Homo sapiens: one gene and its partner. The protein of the gene in region 2 purifies or fractionates together with the protein of the main gene of each other region. This does not show direct contact. Each region holds a gene or a part of one and is shown on either strand. Other genes may lie near its edges.

The links.
Region 1: the proteins of AMBN (region 2) and LRP2 purify together in Homo sapiens (affinity purification with mass spectrometry; 2 studies listed by BioGRID and IntAct, with this or other methods). This does not show direct contact.

What each region holds. Positions count from the first base shown.
Region 1 is NC_000002.12:169,352,365-169,356,191, forward strand, and holds part of LRP2 (low-density lipoprotein receptor-related protein 2 precursor), read right to left. Parts: intron 1-3,827. UniProt on the Homo sapiens protein: Multiligand endocytic receptor. Acts together with CUBN to mediate endocytosis of high-density lipoproteins. Mediates receptor-mediated uptake of polybasic drugs such as aprotinin, aminoglycosides and polymyxin B.
Region 2 is NC_000004.12:70,595,256-70,599,082, reverse strand, and holds part of AMBN (ameloblastin precursor), read right to left. Parts: intron 2,085-3,827; coding exon 2,034-2,084; intron 728-2,033; coding exon 680-727; intron 1-679. UniProt on the Homo sapiens protein: Involved in the mineralization and structural organization of enamel.

The DNA of each region.
Region 1 (3,827 bases), on a different chromosome or scaffold from region 2:
GAGTCCTGTCCTTCTTGTTGTAGCTAGCTTGTAACATTCCCATCCAAAAGAAAGAGATTTAACAGAGTATATTTAACTGCCACTGAAGAAATTTGCAGTGGTAAGTCAGTTCACCTCTAAGTCTGTTTACAAAACTGAAAAATGAGAGGGTACCTAGATCACACGTTCCCAAAAATTGGTCCAGCCCTCAGAATCACCTTGAAACTTTTAAAAATACAGATTTTCCACATTTTCTTTATCTAGTCTATCACTGATGGGCATTTGGGTTGGTTGTGGCACATATGCACCATGGAATAATATGCAGCCATAAAAAGGAATGAGTTCATGTCATTTGCAGGGACATGAATGACGCTGGAAGCCATCATTCTCAGCAAACTAACATAGGAACAGAAAACCAAACACCGCATGTTCTCACTCATAAGTGGGAGATGAACAATGAGAACACATGGTCACAGGGGGGGGAACATCACACACAGAGAGGGGAACATCACACACCGGGGCCTGTCAGGGGGTGGGGGCCAAGGGAAGGGAGAGCATTAGGACAAATACCTAATGCATGTGAGCCTTAAAACCTAGATGAAAGGTTGATAGGTACAGCAAACCACCATGGCACATGTATACCTATGTAACAAACCTGCACATTCTGCATATGTATCCCAGAACTGAAAGTAAAATAAAATAAAATTTTTAAAAAACACAGATTTTCATACCCCTGCTTTAGTAAGGGTGAGTTTTGATTTAAGAATCTCTATACTTTTTTAAGTTCCTCAGGTGATTTTGATGATATGTCAAGTTTGGGGAGCTAGCTGACTTTGTCTAGGGTCCTTAGAAATTCTAACAATCTGTAAGTTATTGTGATGAAATAATACTTTTGAGAACATAACTAAAACCTTCTCAAAGTTGGATTCCCCCTGGATAGGATCAAGGAAACACGTAGCCCCATTTGCCCTGGCAGCCATATCAGAATCATATGGGAAGCCAGACCGCACACAAAGGTGAAACTTAGGGGGGAGTAGGGTCAAGGAAAACACAAAGAAAGAGAACTGGAGCCCTGACTGCACCTCGCCTGAACCCCACTCTGCCTCAGTATTTTTTACTCACATAAGCCAAGAAATACCCTTTATTGTGTAGGCCATTTTGAGTTGGGTTTTCTGTTTCTTGCAACAAAAAGTATTCTCCACACCCTTCCCCACATCAAAATTAAACCAGTGTGGAAGTACATGCTAGCATGTATCACCCCCCTTCTAGTGAGATTAAAATGTGGGTAGGATTGCCATATTTCTGATAAAATACTTTCATTCTTAAATTCAACTTTAAGAATTTCCTGACAAAATAAATGATTTCAGCCGGGCATGGTGGCTAGCGCCTATAATCCCAGCACTTTGGGAAGCTGAGGCGGGAGGATCACTTGAGCTCAGGGGTTTGAGGCCAGCCTGAACAACATGGAGAAACCTCATCTCTACAAAAAATATAAAAATTAACTGTGAGTGCTGGTATGTGTCTGTAGTCCCAGCTTCTTGTGGGGTTAAGCGGAGAGGATCTCTTCAGCCTGGGAAGTTGAGGCTGCAGGGAGCCATGCACTCCAGCCTGAGTGATAAAGTGAGACCCTCTCTGGCCTGGGTGATAAAGTAAGACCTTGTCTCAAAAAATAAAAATAAACGATTTTGATTTTTTCAACCTTTACTCAGGAAATTTTCTCCTTGTTAATGACATAAAAACCAAAGAACTGGGCCCAAAGTGACAAGCAAATCACTGACAGTATAAGACAGAATATTTTTATAGAGGAATCCAAGAATGTCCAGCATAACAGAAGTGTAGCTACTTTCCTTTTCGTCTTTTTCAGGTTTCCTCAACACCTTCAAAAGTACACATGCTCTTACTTAATGTGAATCAGTAGATCAGTGAGGAAAGACTTATTTTCAAAGTTACCAGGAATCTTCATGTGTTATTCGCTGATAGTACATAAATTTAAAGGAGACCTTGGATATTGCTTACAAACTTGGATCTCAAGATCTGGACAATAAATGCGCCATTGTATCCATGGTAACAGTGGCTCAACTATTCAATGCACAGAATGGTAATTACATTTCCTCCTTTCATTCATTTCTCACTGTTTCCAGTAACCTTGAGGTCAGGCATGACCTGAGGGCTAATGACCAAAAGTGAAACTTCAAATTGTCTAATCTGTCATTATCTAGGAAAGACTTACATTTCTTTGCACTGAATTTCAGTGCTATCCTAAATCAGAAGTGTCCTAATATAAAAGTTAACCATCTTATTTTTAGAATGATAATGTCTCCATTTTCTCAGCTAATGTGATTAGAGATAAGACTTAAATTAGAGACCAACAAAGTAACCATCAGCAAAGAGTACATATATCTGGCATTTCTGAATTAATCCAATAAGGTGTGATGGATACGTGTTCTACCATTTATGAAAGAAGTCCATAGATGAAGTGCTAAGGACACTCAGATGTGCACCAAGATGTGTTCTGTCTCCACAGAAGCATCTTAACCTGTCTGCAAACTCTTTAAGCTTCTTTCTCTCTACCCCATCCTTATAGCAAAGGACTAGTGCTTGGAAAACAGACAAACTCTTAGGAACATAAACATTGGAGTGAAGTAAATTGGAAAAGGAGTAGGAGCCTAAGATTCACAGAAAAATGAAATACTGCACCAGACTTAAGGGATCCTGTAGTCTGATCGCTCAGCTCATTTTCCAGAACTTTCCTGTCTATCACAAAGCTCTGCTCCAAATAAGAAAACTTTAGGATCCAAATAAACCTTCTAAAAGTCCTTCTTTCTCCTGTTCTCCTTCTAAACTTAAAGTTGCAACATGGTCACATGGGCACAGATCACCATGTCTTTTTTCTTAATGTTTCCAATACTTTATTCCTTTCAATTCTGTAAGTTACCCCAGGGCTGCCAGCTCTTGAGAAATTTCTGTAGCTTTTTCAAGTGTGTCTTCACATACAAAATGAAAATAACATCGTCAGTCAATTTTATCTGATAAGGTATACTGAACACCTGTTATTTTTGCATCCCAGCCTCTGTTCACCATTCTCCCAATAATTACCCCCATTTCTCTCTGGACTCCACCCCTTCATACATGATCTCAAAGACTGAGTATACAGCCCAAGCCTAAGCCATGGGAACACATCATGACCCGGGATTCAGTGGTTGGTTCTCCAATGAGTTTATGACCTAAGTAGAGACCCTGAGATGCAACTGAAACTTTTGCTGGGAATAGCTAAGATAAAAACTCTTTTTCTTTCCCAGTGGATGTGATCTGATAGGAGGTGGCTCCAGAGCCACTGACAGCCGCTTTACATCAAAGGAGAACATGTTTAAGAATGGAGTCATCTCAGAGCCAGGAGACGGAAAAAAGACAAGATTGGCCTGACATAGTTTGAGCCTCCATTTTATATTAGGTTGAACCAAATGAAATTGCCAATATTTGACTATTTCTGCATAGGAAAAAAAATCAATCTCAAATGGATCAACCTAATTATCTGTATCTTTTCAACTATGTATTTATTTTCTTTGAGACAGGGTCTCACTCTGTCGCTGAGGCTGGAGTGCAGTGGCATGATCACAGCTCACTGTAGCCTCGACCTCCTGGGCTCAAGCGATCATCTCACCTCAGCCTCCCAAGTAGCTGGGACCACAAGGGCACACCACCATTCCTGGCTAATTTTTTGTATTTTTTGTAGAGATGGAGTCTCACTATGTTGCCCAGGCTGGTCTCAAACTCCTAGGCTCAAGCAATCCGCTCACCTCAGACTCCCAAAGTGCTGAGATTTATAGGCATGAGCCACCACACCCAGC
Region 2 (3,827 bases):
ATAGGTATGGCTGGACGTGGTGGCTCACGCCTCTAATCCCAGCACTTTGGGAGGCCGAGGTGGGTGGATCACCTGAGGTCAGGCATTCGAGATCAGCCTAGCAACATGGCAAAACCCCGTCTCTACTAAAAAATACAAAAATTAGCCTGGCGTGGTGGCAGATGCCTGTAATCCCAGCTACTTGGGAGGCTGAGACAGGAGAATTGCTTGAACCCAGGAGATGGAGGTTGCAGTGAGCCGAGATCATGCCATTGCACTTCAGCCTGGGCAACAGAGCGACACTCTGTCTAAATAAATAAATAAATAAATAAAAATAAAATAAGTAAATCAAATGGGTAGGTGAACTCTTCCTTTCAATGAACTTAAATTTCGTTTTGAGCTAGTCTGCAATATTTGCATAAATTGTTTGAGATTTAGCTTTTTAAGCACTTGTGTTTTGTGCCACATAATAAAATTAATAATGCAGGAAAAGATTCTTTTCTTAACTCAATAAAATTCAATATTGTTTTTGTTTTTCCCTGTCACTGTATCTTATTTTGTTTTAGGCTCTCATTTACTTCTTGGTTCTTCCAATCTTTAGTATATTGTCTATTCATAAATAAATTTGATGAATTATAATGCTGCTGCTAATATTAACACTACCACCACCATGAATACTTGCAATAAGAAATATGATTACCTGAGAAAGTGTGTTTAATCTCTGCAGACTTCCCAACTGTCTCATTGTCTATCAAGAAAAAAAAGTGGGTTACTGTTTATCGCATATGCTGTGTTTGACACAACTGATTTCTCATGATATTTGACATTATCAACACAAAGTTTGGTGTGAATCAATTTAATAAAATGAAAGTAGACACAAATCATCACTGAAAGGTGGAAATATTAAATTTGGTTCTGCCATTGTTATTATTATTGCTATTAAAATAATGCAGTTGCTTTTATCATTAATTAAAGGAGAAAAAGTATTATTTAAGTGGAGGTTACATTGAAACATGGGAAAATAGCTCATTCCATTGAAATATAAGTGTAATTGTGAGGACTTTGCTTCATTGACTCTTTCTCCCCATTTAATTTACTTTGCCCTTTACAAGTTCAGCCAGAAGAGGAATTTGAAACAAACAAACAAGACAAACAAATAAAACTTCTACCTCTTTCCCATAAAATAAATCTTTCAAAATATTAAAAATAAAAACTATTGAAAGAAATGTTAAGTATCTGGATAGATTATCGAGAATGCTACCATTTCAACAGAATGCCAATTTAACTTTTTTCACGGGAAGAGATTTAGAATGCTTTGGATTGAGTTTAAGCTAAAAAGTGAGAAAAAAACCCTCAGCGAAATTAGCTTCCATGTGAAATAAGCGTCTAGCTCAAATAGGTATTGACTGCCCCCAGCTTACCATGACACATGGAAATTTCACAAGACCTTGTGAAAAATTTATAATCTTATAAATATCTTTCTATATATAACTGTCAATATTTTTCATTGACATGACCAAAATTTCTGTTTTGCTGGAGTTTTCTAAACAGAATATATATTACATGAGAACTGCAATAAGACAAATACACTGTACAACTTATGCAGGAAGTATCATAGTACAATGTTAATGTTATTTACCAGACTTATAAAAAATTAAATTTTGTACAGGTACAAAATTTTTCATGAGAACTTTATCATGTAAGATAGTATAAGGAGCAGGATTAAAAATAAACTATTTGTGAGTATGGAGCAATGTATTTTAATTAAGGTAGTAATTTTATTAATGTGCATATTATATATAAGGCATTAAATACTAATATTGCTTTGGTTTGCATAGAAACAATGTTCTAAAACTTAAAACACCTGAGAGTTTAAAACTGCAGTAGAATTATAAGACAAAGCTCTAGTAAATGTCATAACTTTTCTAGCACTCCTCAGGATAACAGCCACAAACTTCTGGCTAGGAAAACTGAGAAGCACACGATTATATTTCTCCTGTACCACAAATATACCAATGTAAAGTTAATATGTTAAAAATTCTGACAATACATACCTCAAGGCTCAAACTAGCCATACCCGGTGTTCCAGATTGCTGAGGAAAGAACTGAATGAAAATAAGAATAATTTTGAGTCTTATTGGTACAAAACTTCCTTCAATGCCCATTGGGCGTAGGATATTGCTCCAGTACATACGGGCTACCTGAGAGGCCACCATTTTGGTTTATTATGCAAATGACTTGAGTGCTTGGGCAGAATGAAGAAGAGCATAAGTTATTTGGGAGAATCAACATAGTATTTGATAATTTTGCTCCCACCTGCATCATCTATCCTTTGTCTGCATCTTAATGCTTCATTGCTTTAAAAGCAAAATATGATTTAAAGTTACACACAAGGAGAAATAGAATAAAGCAACAAAATAGAAAACTACTAGTACTTTATTTTCTTTAAAAATTACCACAGAAAAAAGTAAAGGGGACAAACCCAAGCTGAATTTTCATGTGCTTTCGACAAATCTATATGATTTTGGTTTACAAGACATGGCATGGGATCATGACATTCAGAAAAATCATATGAAAAATCTAACTGGATTCCCATTCAAAGGGCTTCAGCAAATTCCCTATCATTTTTAGTGAAAGATTATTTTATGTGTAAACCTACTATACTTTGGGATCATATCAAAGGTTTTTTTCCCTTAAATAAAAAGCATTCTAGCACAAAATACTATTATACTTAATGTGTTCACTTAAAAGTTGTTCAAAAATATACCTATCTATACAATTAGCTTTTTAAAATGTAAGATATTTTCCTTTTTTTTTTTTTTTTGAGACTAAGTTTCACTGTGTCACCCAGGCTGGAGTGCAGTACCGTGATCTCGGCTCACTGCAACCTCTGCCTGCTGGGTTCAAGTGATTCTCCTCCCAAGTAGCTGGGATTACAGGTGTGCACCACCAAGCCCGGCTAATTTTTGTATTTTTGGTAGAGACAGAGTTTCACCATGTTGGCCAGGCTGGTCTTGAACTCCTGAGCTCAAGTGATCCGCCCACCTTAGCCTCCCAAAGTGCTGGGATTACAGATGTGAGCCACTGCATCTGGCTTCCTTTTTTAAAAAATAGAGATGGGGGTCTCACTATGTTGCCCAGGCTTGTCTTAAACTCCTGAGCTCAAGTAATCCTCCTGCCTTGGCCTCCCAAAGTGCCAGGATGATAGGCATGAGCCACCATGCCTAGCCTTTTCCTTTTGTTTTTTGTTTTTTTGTTAAATATATTTTTCTTTTGAAACCAATCCTTATTACTTTACACAAATACCGGTAGAAAACATGGCGAATGGAAGAGTAGGAATTAGAGTAAATTGGATTTTGAGAGTCTCTGGTTCTTTGGATATTCTCACTTTCTAAGACCAAGGGGTTGTAATGCCGTCTTTCCTTCAGTTATACCACAAGGATTTAGGGAATGTTTACCAAATATATCAGTATTATTTTTCCTTTATGAGTAAGAAGTTAAAGAATTACACCCCCTACTTTTTCCACCCACCACCTTTTTCATGTAAGTAAAATCCCACCTTCTGGGTCATAGTGAGAATTTCTTTAAATAATTCAGTTTTGGACAAGAATAGAGGGAAAGGGCCAGGCATGGTGGCTCAAGACTAATCCCGGAACTTTGGGAGGCTGAGGTGGGCAAATCATGAGGTCAGGAATTTGAGATCAGCCTGGCCAACATGGCGAAACCGCGTCTCTACAAAAATACAAAAATTAGCTGGGCGTGGTGACACGTGCCTGTAATCCCAGCTACTTGGGAGGCTGAGGCAGGAGAATCGCTTGAACCCAGAAGGAGGAGGTGGCAGTGAGCTG